Linked DNA regions of Homo sapiens. The protein of the gene in region 1 interacts with the protein of each later gene in a biochemical or structural test. Each region holds a gene or a part of one and is shown in the gene's direction. Other genes may lie near its edges.

Region 1 (3,500 bases):
GATGACATGCAAATGTATTATATACCTCAAACAGCATTACTATTAGCACAATTAATTGGCTTTAAAACTACCATTGAACAGTGACATATTTGGGGATTTCAGTCAGTAAAACAAATCGATTGTTTCTTATGTCACACTATATAATCTATGGTGTCTTTACCTTTCATCAAAAGTTGTTTTTTTATCAAGAACTTGACAGTGGGAGCCAGGCACGGTGGCTCACACCTGTAATCCTAGCACTTTGGGAGGGCTGATTGCTTGAGTCCAGGAGTTCAAGACCACCCTGGGCTTTCCACCATGGAAACCCTGTCTCTACAAAAAAATACAAAAAAATTAACAGGACATGGTGGCGTGCACCTGTAGTACCAGCTACTCGGGAGGCTGAGATGGGAGAGTCACTTGAGCCTGGAAGGCAGAGGTTGCAGTGAGCTGAGATTGCACCACTGCACTCCAGCCTGGGTGACAGAGCAAGACCCTGACTCAAAAAGCAAATAAATAAAAAAATCAAAAGAGACAATTAAAACTTATAATAAAAAAGAACTTGGCAGTGTAAGTCCTTCTTAGCCAACTAGAAAATTAATTTCTTTTTTTATGACTAATTTATTACCTGATTCAACCTTTAATTTTTTACTAAAAAAAGCTAACCAGTAATATTACATTGATACTTTTAACCTATCTTGATTGATATTAATTACCTTTTTTAATGTGTTTGTTTTGCTTATCTAGAAAAACACACCTTGACTTTAGTCAGATACATCACTGTCTGTTAAAGGAAACCAAGCGTGAAGTGGAAGTCTAACACATGAGGATACAGAATTGATTCAAAATGGGAACAACAAGTGATGAGATGGTGTCTGTGGAACAGACCTCCTCCTCTTCTCTAAACCCCCTGTGTTTTGAATGTGGCCAACAGCACTGGACAAGAGAAAACCATTTGTACAATTACCAGAATGAAGTGGATGATGACCTAGTCTGCCATATTTGCCTTCAACCTCTGCTGCAGCCACTAGACACACCCTGTGGACATACATTCTGCTACAAGTGCCTCAGAAACTTTTTACAAGAGAAAGATTTCTGTCCGTTGGACCGGAAAAGACTTCATTTTAAGTTGTGCAAGAAGTCTAGTATTCTAGTTCATAAACTCCTAGACAAATTATTAGTTTTATGTCCATTTTCTTCAGTGTGCAAAGATGTAATGCAACGTTGTGATCTGGAGGCACATCTCAAAAACAGGTAAGCAAAAAATATAAAAGAAGTAACTCCAGATTTTGGAAAAAGGTGGTTCAAATGAACATAAAAACTTGATTAAAACAAAACAAACCAGAGCACTAGTAAGTAAATGGGTGAATCAAGTACAGAAGAGATACAATAAATAAGTTGTATGGAACAGTATTTAACATTATTTATCAAAAACATGAATACAAAAACTACAGTGAGGAAGTACTGTTTTATACCTGTTAATATTTCTGCTGCTGTAATATGAAACTGATATATTCAAATAGATGACAGGATATTATGATAGATTCTTTCTATAAAGCAGTTTGGCAGTTTGTTTTTAAAAACTATATGAATGTAAATCTCCTTTTATCTAGTTTATTATCCTAAGGAAATAATCTAAAAGCAGGAAAAATTGTATGTAAATATGTTCAGTGCAACATTGTGCATAGTTTGGTAAATTGGAATCAGTTATTTAAAAGTAGGGAAGGGTTAAAAAATACTATGCACATAAACTCAGTGGGATATTATGCAGCCAATAAAAACGATAATTTTGTTGCAATATGGAAATAAATACATTATTTTATTTGCTAAGATCTTGTAAAGATTCTGGGTTCAGGGACTAGACTGAACAAGAATTAGGAGTTGGAAAACTAAATATTTAGTGGGGATTTCTGTTCTCATAAAAGCTTTTTAAAAGGTTAAGTAATTTATTTAGCTGATGAGTTTTATAATTTGATTTTGCTAAAAGACTTGATCTTTAACTTAGGAAGAGTTACAGTATACGTCATTTGTGTAGAATCACATAAAATGGCAGAAATAAATACTGGTTTCTAATTTCAAGTTAAGCCAGTTTTACAGTATAAATCTGCAGTAATCTCGATTGCTGTGAAAAACAATGCATACTACATCATACTGGACTTAGATGTAAGAGTGTAAGTCTGATATAGAATGGCTTGCTATTATACTCACACATAAAATCATAGACTTGAAGGAGATTATCTAATCCCCCTCATTTTATGAATAAGGAGACTGAGTCACAAAAATTTAGTTAATGCTGTAGTTAGACTCAAGCTTTACTGTTCTTGTTTACTATTCTAATAAACCATGTTGACTCTATCGTAGGTCAAGTCATGTTCTCTGCTGCTATGTAGCAAAAGTTTCATTCATGTGCACATGAAATACACATTCATTTTGTATCAATATATTGTTGATATTTATTTCTAAACATCAGAGTTAAGACATGAGAAACAATGAAAAAAACAAAGATGTTATTAAAATGTTGGAAACATTTAGATTTATAGAATGCTTAACTCTAAACTGTGTTGTCTAGAACTAGGAGGTAAGATAGAGTAGGATAGACAGACTTTTGAAAATGCGTGTAATAATGTAGCATTGCATTTTTTTATATCTTCTGTAACCAGCAAGCATAGAATCTGAACATGATGGCAGAGGCCTCCTGGAAACTGACACTGGTCTTTTGAATATACTAGTCTGAGTCAGGACTAGTTATGGCTGAAGAATATTTCAGGCTGCTTCTTTCAGTAGAACTGTTCTTTTCAGTGTATAGGCTTCTTTTCTAAACATCAGTTATGAGATGTTAGAGGAACTGAATGAAATGTCAGTTCAGTTATTTATGATTTTGAGAGCTGAAAGATAACAGTTTCACAGATTTTCAGGAATATTCCTTTAACATGCATTCAAGAATTTAATTTGCAGTTGAACTATTACTAGTGTTTCTTATCAAACCATTTATAATGAGAATGTAAAAAACCTTGGTAATTGCAAACTGCCTTTTCATTTACATGTTGGTAAAGGCTTATCCAGTTGAAGGTTTCATTTTCCAGCTGTGCTTATTAGTATTGAAGTAACCAATTTTATCATTTCTAAAGTATCTTAGGCCTGTAACATGAAAGATACAGTGAAAAGATGGATGATTGGAAAAGGTGGTGATTTGCCTGATACAGACAGCTAAGAGTGATTACTGAGTATATAAATGTAAAAAAATTATAAAATGTAATATGATTTTTATATGCCATTTGAACAGATAGTGATGAACAGCCTGACCTTTCTCTGTTCTCTTAAATAAGAACATTGAAATTCAGGTAGAAATGTATATTATACAACATTCAACCCTAAATAATATAGTTCATTTGTTTATTCAGCAAATATTGATTATCTGCTATGTGCCAGATACTTTTCTAGGTGTTAGGTAGTCTCTGCAAGTTAGAATCTAATGCCGGGTTGTAGATTCCTTTAGAAACAGAACCATGTCTTTATAGTCT
Region 2 (3,500 bases), on another chromosome or scaffold:
AGGCTAAGGTGGGTGGATCACCTGAGGTCAGGAGTTCGAGACCAGCCTGGCCAACATGGTGAAACCCCGTCTCTCCTAAAAATACAAAAATTAGCCAGGTGTGGCGGTGCGCACCTGTAATCCCAGCTACTCGGGAGACTGAGGCAGGAGAATTGCTTGAACGTGGGAGGTGGAGGTTGCAGTGAGCTGAGATCGCGCCACTGCACTCTAGCCTAGGTGACAAAGTGAGACTCCATCTCAAAAGAAAAAAAAAAGAGGGGAGGAAGTCCGGACCCAAGATGAGTTGCCACCTTCTTAGTTCTGGTCCTCGTACCCTCTAGGCAGAATGGCTCTCAGATAGACGTGTATGACAAGACCCCAATGGAACAGACCCAAATCCCTTGCTTTTAGAGCGTGCCAAGGCCAGTCTTCTGGACAGAGCAATTCAAAAGGTGCTAGCGTGAGCTGCTGTTTCCCACTCTTGCTTTAGCAAAGCTTCTCTCTGATTCCAACTCCATCAGTCAGCTTTGACCCTGCTTCCTTACCACTCATTGTCCCTCCCTTCCTCACCTGTAAAATAGGATAGTTCCCTCTTCATGGAGATGGAGGGTCAAGTGTCATGTGCACACAGAGCTGAGCATGGGGCTGGCAAACAGGAAATGCCCTGTAAATGCTGCCAGACAGAAACCTCAGTCCCTGTCTCTGCAGGGCTTCCGGGTAGTCCTGGCTGAAGACTGCTGGATGAAGTCGCTGGTTCCTCTGATGGGGGAAGTCAGGCAGCAGATGGGAGGCAAACCCATTTATATCAGCTTTGATATTGACGCTCTGGATCCTGCCTATGCGCCAGGGACAGGGACACCTGAAATTGCTGGTCTCACTCCTAGTCAGGTAAGGAGATTCCACCAGTGAAGATCCTGGGGGTGGAGACACTTAACACCCATTTTCCTGGGACTTGAAGCGAATCTTTAGGAATCAGGATAGGATTTTTGTTTGTTTGTTTGAGACGGAGTCTCACTCTGTCGCCCAGGCTGGAGTGCAGTGGTGCGATCTCGGCTCACTGCAACCTCCGCCTCCCAGGTTCAAGCGATTCTCCTGCCTCAGCCTCCTGAGTAGCTGAGATTACAGGCACATGCCACTACGCCCGGCTAATTTTTGTATTTTTAGTAGAGATGGGGTTTCACCATGTTGGTCAGGCTGGTCTTGAACTCCTGATCTCGTGATCCACTCACCTCGGCTTCCCAAAGTGCTGGGATTACGGGTGTCAGCCACCGCGCCTGGCTGCCAAGGTAGGATTTTAAGAGCAGAGCACCTAGGCCTTTTCTGTTCTCTGGGCTGAGGATAAGTTTGAATACCCTCTTACTGAAGGGTGATTGATTTTGGCAAGGGCCTTCATTTCCTATCTGGGATATAATAGTCCCTTATTTTGTCCTTTATTTGCTCTTCCTGCCTTCAGTTCATCTGTCATGAAAACAACAGTTCATAGGAACAACATTATAGTATCCTCTCTTAAGAACACTAAACTTGGCCGGGCACGGTGGCTCACGTCTATAATCCCAGCACTTTGGGAGGCTGAGGTGGGTGGATCACGAGGTCAGGAGATCGAGACCATCTTGGCTAACACGGTGAAACTCCGTCTCTACTAAAAATACAAAAAAATTAGCCGGGCGCGGTGGCGGGTGCCTGTAATCTCAGCTACTCAGGAGGCTGAGGCAGGAGAATGGCATGAACCCGGGAGGCAGAGCTTGCAGTGAGCCGAGATAGAACCACTGCAGTCTGGCCTGGGCGAAAGAGTGAAACTCCATCTCAAAAAAAAAAAAAAAAAAAAAAAAAAAGAACACTAAACTTGGCCAGGTGTCGTGGCTCACGCCTGGAATCCCAGCACTCTGGGAGGCCGAGGCGGGTGGATCACAAGGTCAGGAGTTCGAGACCAGCCTAGCCAAGATGGTGAAACCCTGTCTCTACTAAAAGTACAAAAATCAGCCCGGCACGGTGGCAGGCGTCTGTAATCCCAGCTACTTGGGAGGCTGAGGCAGGAGAATTGCTTGAACCCTGGAGGCGGAGGTTGCAGTGAGCTGAGATCGTGCCACTGTACTCCAGCCTGGGCAACAGAGCAAGACTCCACCTCAAAAAAAAAACCAACCAACCAACCAAACAAAAACACTAAACTTGGCCGGGCGCAGTGGCTCACACCTGTAATCCCAGCACTTTGGGAGGCCAAGGCATCAGGCGGGTGGTTCACCTGAGGTAGGGAGTTTGAGACCAGCCTAACATGGAGAAACCCCATTTCTACTAAAAATACAAAATTAGCCGGGCATGGTGGCGCATGCCTGTAATCCCAGCTACTCGGGAGGCTGAGGCAGGGGAATCACTTGAACCTGGGAGGCTGAGGTTGTGGTGAGCCGAGATCATGATATTGCACTCCAGTCTGGGCAACAAGAGTGAAACTCCATCTCAAAACAAACAAAAACACTAAACTTATCTTTTTAGGGTTAAATTTAAATAAAAGTGCATACAACGGGCCAGGCGCGGTGGCTCAGGCACTATCCTCAGCACTTTGGGAGGCCAGGGTGGATGGATCGTTTGAGCCCAGGAGTTTCAGCCCAGCCTGGGCAACATAGTGAGATCCCATCTTTACTAAAAATAAAAATAAAAATTAGTCTGGTGTGCTAGTGTGCACCTGTAGTCCCAGCTACTAGGGAGGCTGGGGCAGGAGGATCAACTGAGCCTGGCAGGTCAAGCCTTCAGTGAGCCGTGATCATACCACTGCACTATAGCCCGGGTGACAGAGACCCTGTCTCAAAAATAAATAAATAAATAAATAAATAAATAAATAAATAAATAAAAGTGCATGTGATGGCACAATTACCTGCCAAGGTAAGCTCAAGAGTTTTAGAAACACCCAAATAAAGCTCCAATAATGTGTGCTGGGAGTAAATGCACGGGGGCAGAATGGTTATGACTAGAATCTCCCCAAGGGCAGGACCTATGTATTGTTCCCTACCTTGTCCTTGGAGCCTAGGACAGTGCCTAATACAAATAGTAGGCACTCAAAGACATTTGAGAGTAAATGAATGAAGACTGCTTAAACCTAATCAAGTACCTTACATCCTCTAAGATCTTAAAGGAGGGTGGCCATAACTCTCTCTCTTGAAATGGCTGTAACCATCCTCTCTTCTCATGAGGGATTTCTGAAACACATTCCTCATCCCTCTGCTTAGCAACCTTCTGGGCTTTTCACCTGCAGGATGGGAACCCTTTCAGACAAGGTCACTCTCTTCCCATCAGTCTCCCTCACTTACTCTGTCTTCTGGCCACATCTTACTACCTGAACTTTTCCCATCTTGGTGCCTTTGCCTGTGTTTTTCCCTCTGCCTGGCCTATCCCTTGAACTGGGTATTTCCACCTTGGGGAAGCCTTACCCACCTCTCCAGGCTATTACCTATGCTGATACCATTCTGGGCTTGCTTTCCTTGAAGCCCTTGGTGCATGACATTGAAACGATTGGTTTCCTTGTCTCCATC
Region 3 (3,500 bases), on another chromosome or scaffold:
GAATTTGCTGCTGTGGGCAAGGCCTGAGAATTAATGCAGGACATTAGGATGTCTGGGGTGCTTTGGGGGTGGTGTTTGCTGGTTTCTAGATGCTCAACTGTGTTCTAGACAAGATATTCCAAGATGTATGTATTAGTTGAGACTCTCATGCAGATGAGAAAACCCTAGTATGATAGGAGACATAGTCTACATGATTGTCAGAAGTGGAAGAAGAGACAACTCCTTAATAGCAAAGATGCTGAACAGCCAAAACAGTAGTGGATGTCTACTACATCAGATATTTGACCCAAATAAATGAATTGTTTCTATAATAATTTAGTTTGTTTTTGCCTGATTTGCAAAGAAATTGAGAACCTCAGTTGCTTGGCACACCCCAAATGTAAAAAGTGTTAACTGCAGAGGATAAATTATACCATTCTTTTTACATGTATGGTATAATTCTTTTTATATGTTTGGCATTTACAGATTACATTTTTTATTTAATTGGAAAAAATGTTATTTTTAGGATAAGAGTATATGTACAGTGCTTGTCACATAGTAGGCACCCAATAAATGATAACATTATCCTTTTTAAAATCTTTTTCTGAAACTCGTTTTCATTCTACATCCATTTTTTATGGTGAATGCATCTTGAGGGTAAATTATGCTTTTAAGAATGCTTTTTTCCTGTTGGTAATAGTAATTTTCAATACGTTTTTTGAAAATATTTATAATTTCAGGTCAGGTCTTATCTGGCATGATGGAGGAGGTGGTGACACAAATCAGAAACTCTGAAAACATAATTTGGCTTAAGAATGAATTAACAAGATGCTTTTCTTTTGAACAGCAGCTTTATCATTTTAATTATGATTTCTTTAGACTAAACCTAATTTAGTGTAAATACATTGTTCAAAAACATACCAAATGATATGAAAGGAAAACATTAAAGGCCAAGGAAAATCTACAGGAGTCAAATCGGGAACTTAATTTAATACACTAAGCTAATTCCTTAATGTATTAGTTTATTTTATTCCTTAAATGTTGTAATTATTTGGATATATAGAAAAATACATTGGATATATGGACAAAAATTCTTGAAAAGGTGGACTGCCACTTTTCGCTCTACATTTCATCCTTTAAGCCCTCCTTTTTAGGAGGTTATTCTGTGTATCCTCTGGAAAAATAACTTGCAATCTTAATGTTTTATGAAATCATTTTTTTCCCCACAAGGATTTAAAATAGCTATTACATTTTGAGTCTGACGCTTGTGAAAAAATGAGTATATGTCTTTCCAAGATTTGTGAAAGTTGGCACTGTCTCACATCCTTTGTGGGCACGGTTTGTTTTTTGGGTTCCTTTTTTCCATGGGTATTCAAAATAAATAGAATCTTGTTATTGAAGTGGGAAAAAATAGCATTACTGTAAAGCTGGTTACAGATACTGCTGGAAAGAATTTTATCATATGATTGGAAATATTTTTCCAGTTAACCTTTTAAAAATTCTTAAGAACCATTTTTCTTTCCAGCTTTTAGATGCCAAATGCATTCTGAGGTTAGTGTGGTCATTTCTAGGGAATAAAGAAATTAGTAGCTTTGGTTTTGTAATGCTCCCTAATACTTAAACCTGAAAGGAAGTATTTACTGAATATTTTAAGTGCCACAGTTAATGCCACTTTGTAATGTAGATTTGTATTAGATTTAAAATAACCTGAGACATCATAATTGTTTTTTCTTAAGCCAGTGCCCACTGATGGCTCCTGCTAACCATGTAGCATACAGTAGCACCTAATACACTAAGAGTATTAATTCCTAGAGCAGTATTTTTAAGTGTGATCTGTGGACTCATGACAGAGAGGTCCTGTCTTTCCATAATATTTTACCATTTGTTTATGATAGTAATCCTATGTATTTCTTGATACAAATTATAATTTATTTCAGATGACTTTTTTTGTTTAAATACTTTGTTCCAGGGTTTTCTCAAGAAAAAAATACCATTTTCTTTGTTGATGCTTGACTTTTCTGCAGTAGCAAGAAAAGATGGAATAATCAGCTTCTTAGATTGTTTTGCGCCACTAAAGAGGCCGTCAAAAATAGTTTGAGCTCCATGAGTAGTCTTCCTGTGTTTTGATCTTCTCCAAATAATTATTTAGGAAATGTTTGTTTTAAATATCTTAAGATCTTTGCATCTAATTTCTGTTAGTGGCATCATATTTTCCCCAGGTCAAGAACCTTGGTAATAACTGAACAGGTTTAGGGAGGAAAAGGGGAAAGTCTTTCCTGGCAATTTTGACATCGAACCGTCTCTCAAATCAGCTTCTCCTCTCTAATCTTGTTACTGCTGCCAGAGCCCCAGTCATCTTTTGTAAGCAATATTAGAGCTGCCTCCCAACTGAGCAGTCTTGCCTTCTTACAATCTATTGTTCACGTTACTTAAGATTCAATGGCTGCCACACATACTCAAGATCAAGGCCATTCTCTCTGAGTGCAGTAAGTGAGGCCTTTCATGATGCTTTAGCCCGTCCTTATTTCTTTACTCAAATGTGAGGAACTACTTGCAGTTTCCAGAATGTAACTCATTTCACTCCACCTTAATGCTTTGTTAATTGCTATTTTTCTTTCAGATTCAGTAATACTTTGTATTACTTAAGTATTAATTCATCTGTGAAGCTTTCCAGACCTCCTCTTTTACCTTATAGCCAGTTTCCTTTGTGTTCCTTGTCGGAAAAAAAACAAAAACAACAACAACAACAAAATTTCTCCTTCATATTTAGCTTAGAAAACTCCAGAAGCCCTTGATTTGGTTTAAGCTTGTACATTTTTGCAGGAAAGACACTCATCAGTGGTGTTTCTATAACTTGATGAACAACGACTATGAAGCTTAAGGATCACATGTATAAACAGACAATGACTTCACAGTCCAAGAAGCCAAATAACTACCATAACAATTGACCTAAAATGTCCAGGACTTCATTAATAACTGCCAGCTTCCTAATTTTTGTCACACTTCCAATTCATAACCAACCTGTGAAAGCCAGATATACCCCTAACCAATCACAGTAGGATGCCTCCACTTCTAGTTAGCCTGCCTACAGCTCCACAGGCCAACAGCCTCCATCAGGCCATACCTGAGCCTTCTCTTTTTTCCATTATGAAACTTCACACTCGTCTACCTGTCTTTTAGTCTCTGTCAAGATGCAAATGACGATAGATGACTCCCTTGTTGTAGCAAGCACTGAATAAATACCCTTTGCTTTTCTCTTTTGGTTGATCTTCATTTATTTCCACAAGGAAAAAAATAATGTGTTCATTCTACATTTGTTTACATCTGAAGTAATTAATAATAAATACACTTTATAAACTGCCTTTATCTCTTGTGCTAGCTATGTTTTTGTAATTTCTACATATTTTATAAACACAGAGGTTTATACTTTATAAACATATGGCGGCTTATATTTTAGAAAGGTGAAGACAGGTTTTGTCATAAGACTTTCTTGCTTTATGTGTTTACATTGAATGGAAAAG
Region 4 (3,500 bases), on another chromosome or scaffold:
TCTCTTCCAGAGGGGGCAGGCTCTCCCGCCTTTGGCTGCATGGCTCCCTGTGCGTTTCTCGGGGGTCATCTCATTTGACAAGGGATGAGTTGCTATCCCCCAGACCCCTCCATATATCCAGCTCCAACCTGTGAATTCCAGGGAGGGGGCTACTATCTCTGCTGTCTGTGCCTTCCGACCACAAGACATTCGGACAGTGCTGAATGGTCCCTTCAGAGAACTAAAACATGACTGCAACAGAGGACTGCCTGTCGTGGACAATGATGTGCCCCAGCCCAGACCTGGAGAGGTGAGGGGGCAGATCTTCATTCTAGGCCTGAAGTCAAGAGCTGCTATTAAGGCAAGAGCCCCACTAAGCATCACTGGCATGTCCTGTTCCTGGGAAACTTTGTCACCAGCCCTGTATTTCCTCTAGTGCATCACCAACAACATGAAGCTCCGGCACTTTGGCTCATCTCTCTCCCTGCCTGACCGCGTACTCACCTTCATCCGGGACCACCCACTCATGGACAGGCCAGTGTTTCCAGCTGATGGCCACCCCCTGCTGGTCACTACAGATACAGCCTATCTCAGAGTCGTGGCCCACAGGGTGACCAGCCTCTCAGGGAAAGAGTATGATGTGCTCTACCTGGGGACAGGTATATTTAATGGTCAAGCAGGCTGCCTACCTAGTGCATACACATTCTCGTCACAGAGAGGGTACTGTAATACATATAGGTCTGAGTCCCAGGCACAGGGGCAATTATGTAATTATTCTTGTTCCTTTCCTGTCCCCTAGAGGATGGACACCTCCACCGAGCAGTGCGGATCGGAGCTCAGCTCAGCGTTCTTGAAGATCTGGCCTTATTCCCAGAGCCACAGCCAGTTGAGAACATGAAATTGTACCACGTGAGTTGTAGATTTTGGAGAGTCTATTGGGGAGACATCTGAGTCCAGAGCCAGTTTGTGACCCTGAGGTCTGGGAGATCCAGTGTATTCCCCTTCCCCACTCCGTTTTTATAGAGCTGGCTCCTGGTTGGCTCCCGTACTGAGGTGACACAAGTGAATACAACCAACTGTGGCCGTCTCCAGAGCTGCTCAGAGTGCATCCTGGCCCAGGACCCAGTCTGTGCCTGGAGCTTCCGGCTGGATGAGTGTGTGGCCCATGCCGGGGAGCACCGAGGGTGAGTGTAGCTGCCTGGATTTCTTGCTTACTGTGCCAGGGCTCTGTCCCATCCATATGTCTACGTTTCTCATCTGTTAATGCTGCCCTGCCGGAGGCTGTTTTCTTTTTCTGTCTGTTAGTGTCTACATCACTCGTGTGTCCTTCTGTCAGTCCATACTAGCTCATCTGTTTGTCCATCTAGTGCTACCTCATCAATGTCCTTGCCTCTCTGCTGGACCTGCCTTGACCTGACAGTGTGCCATCTCTAGTGGATGCTGCTTAGTTTTCATCTTACAAGAGCTCTTGGAAGTGTTTTCACAGTTGTCCACTCCCTCTTTCCTTGAAATACTTTCCTCTTGCTCTCTATGACTGCATTCTTTGGTCTCCTTTACTTTCCCATCCAACAACTGAATGTTGATATTCCTCAGGGTTCAGTCCTGGACCCATTCTCTTCACACGTTCATGCACTCTCTAGGCAGTTTCATTCTGGTTACTTTCAATACCATCTGAGTGCTAATGACAACCACAAATATATCTAGTTGAGCTGTGGAACTCCCCATCCGACTGTCTACTTGATATTCCCTTGGATGCTTCATAAGCAACTCAAACTTAGCAAGTCAAAGTATGCACTGTTGTTTCCTCTTTCTCTCACATGCTCCTCCTCTGGTCTTCCTCATTCCAGTAAAGGGACCTCCATGCATCCAGTTGCTCAAGCCAGAAATTGCCCACATCGTATTATGATTTGTACTGATTCTAGCACCCAAATGTCCTTAGTCCACCCTCTTCTGTCCACCTCTACCACTACCACTCTAGTCCAAGCCATCATCGCTTCTTAACTGGACTACTCTAATAACCTAATTGGTCTTTTTTTGACCATTTTGGGCTCCTACCATCCATTTTCCATTTAGCAGCTTAAAAGCATATGTCACGTTGAAGCAAATCCCTGACATTATATCATATTCATCTTAAATATTTCAATATGTATCTCTACTAGATAAGGAGTTTTTTGTTTGTTTGTTTGTTGTTTTTGAGATGGAGTCTCACTCTGTCGCCCAGGCTGGGGTACAGTGACGCCATCTCGGCTCACTGCAACCTCTGCCTCCCTTATTCAAGCGATTCTCCTGCCTCAGCCTCCCGAATAGCTGGGATTACAGGTGCCCGCCACCATGCCCGGCTGATTTTTGTATTTTTGGTAGAGACGGGGTTTCACTACGTTGGCCAGGCTGGTCTGGAACTCCTGACCTCAAGCAATCCACTTGCCTTGGCCTCCCAAAGTGCTGGGATTACAGGTGTGAGCCACTGCGCCCAGCCCAGGACTCTTAAAAACATTTTATTGTGGGAAAGTTCAATCATATCCAAAAGTAGAGAGAATTGTATAATGAATTTCCATGCATCCATCCCTCAGCTTCAACAACCATCAGCTCCTGGTCAATCTTGCCTCATCAGTACGTTTACTCATTCCCAACTACTTTGATGCAAATCCTGGACATCATTTCACTTCATCCATAAATCTTTCTGTCCGTATCTCTAACATACAAGGGCTTTAAAAAAAAACCATATTACCATTATCATACCAAAAACTTACTTTCTTAATGTCATCAAATATCCAGTCAGTGTTCTGATTTCTTCAATTGCATATATTTTAAAAAGTTTATGTCAGTATCCAAATAATGCTTATTAATTGTAATTGGTTGATATGTTTCTTAAGTGTATTTTAATTGTTGAGATCTTCCAGTAAAGTATTTTTAATCACTTGATTCGAAAGTGTTTTTGCAAACTGACCTTGAGATTTCCTATTTTGAAGTCCAGTTAATTTATAGCATATTTGTATACTACAGAACCTCAAGTATATACAAAATCCAGAATATTACAAAACCCCATGGCTACAAATTCTGTAGAGGTAAAAGTACTTGTCTTTTGGAATAAAACAGATTAATTCACACATGTCAAAACAGAGTGAAATGTTTAAAATGGTAACTGATCTGTAGGGCTAGATATGAAAGAAAAAACTGGCATATAATTAGAATAGTCATAACATTTAATTTTGTTTTTCTGATATTTGTCATGAATTATAAGTGTAAAATCTTATGCCGTCTCTTGATCAGATTCTTGACTTTTTGCCAGTTGGGGATATAAAGTAACTCTTGGATGACAGGCTTGGCCAGCTTTGCATTTTTGGTTAAGAACTTTAACCTGGTCTTTTAGTTTTTTGGGGGAGAACTTTTAAACATCTAAGAGAAAAGCAAGGGCTTTATTCTGTCCTTTATTGTTTTAATTTCCATTAAAATAAGAATTCACTGGTCTTAGATATCCTCTATACTTGAGCCTCAAGGATTCCCTTAAGGTATACATGAGT

The links. Proteins that work in one complex are often made in the same cells at the same time.
Region 2: the proteins of LNX2 (region 1) and AGMAT interact in a test that uses a peptide from one of them, tested with the Homo sapiens proteins (one large-scale study listed by IntAct).
Region 3: the proteins of LNX2 (region 1) and NET1 interact in a test that uses a peptide from one of them, tested with the Homo sapiens proteins (one large-scale study listed by IntAct).
Region 4: the proteins of LNX2 (region 1) and SEMA4F interact in a test that uses a peptide from one of them, tested with the Homo sapiens proteins (one large-scale study listed by IntAct).

The regions. Positions count from the first base shown.
Region 1 is NC_000013.11:27,579,030-27,582,529, reverse strand, and holds part of LNX2 (ligand of Numb protein X 2), read left to right. Parts: intron 1-726; 5' UTR 727-826; coding exon 827-1,233; intron 1,234-3,500.
Region 2 is NC_000001.11:15,575,052-15,578,551, reverse strand, and holds part of AGMAT (guanidino acid hydrolase, mitochondrial precursor), read left to right. Parts: intron 1-687; coding exon 688-867; intron 868-3,500. UniProt on the Homo sapiens protein: Hydrolyzes linear guanidino acids to form urea and the corresponding amines. Displays specificity for substrates having a negatively charged head group and short chains including taurocyamine, guanidino propanoic and butanoic acids.
Region 3 is NC_000010.11:5,422,557-5,426,056, forward strand, and holds part of NET1 (neuroepithelial cell-transforming gene 1 protein), read left to right. Parts: intron 1-3,500. UniProt on the Homo sapiens protein: Acts as a guanine nucleotide exchange factor (GEF) for RhoA GTPase. May be involved in activation of the SAPK/JNK pathway Stimulates genotoxic stress-induced RHOB activity in breast cancer cells leading to their cell death.
Region 4 is NC_000002.12:74,674,747-74,678,246, forward strand, and holds part of SEMA4F (semaphorin-4F isoform 1 precursor), read left to right. Parts: intron 1-141; coding exon 142-289; intron 290-415; coding exon 416-638; intron 639-778; coding exon 779-888; intron 889-1,002; coding exon 1,003-1,163; intron 1,164-3,500. UniProt on the Homo sapiens protein: Probable cell surface receptor that regulates oligodendroglial precursor cell migration. Might also regulate differentiation of oligodendroglial precursor cells. Has growth cone collapse activity against retinal ganglion-cell axons.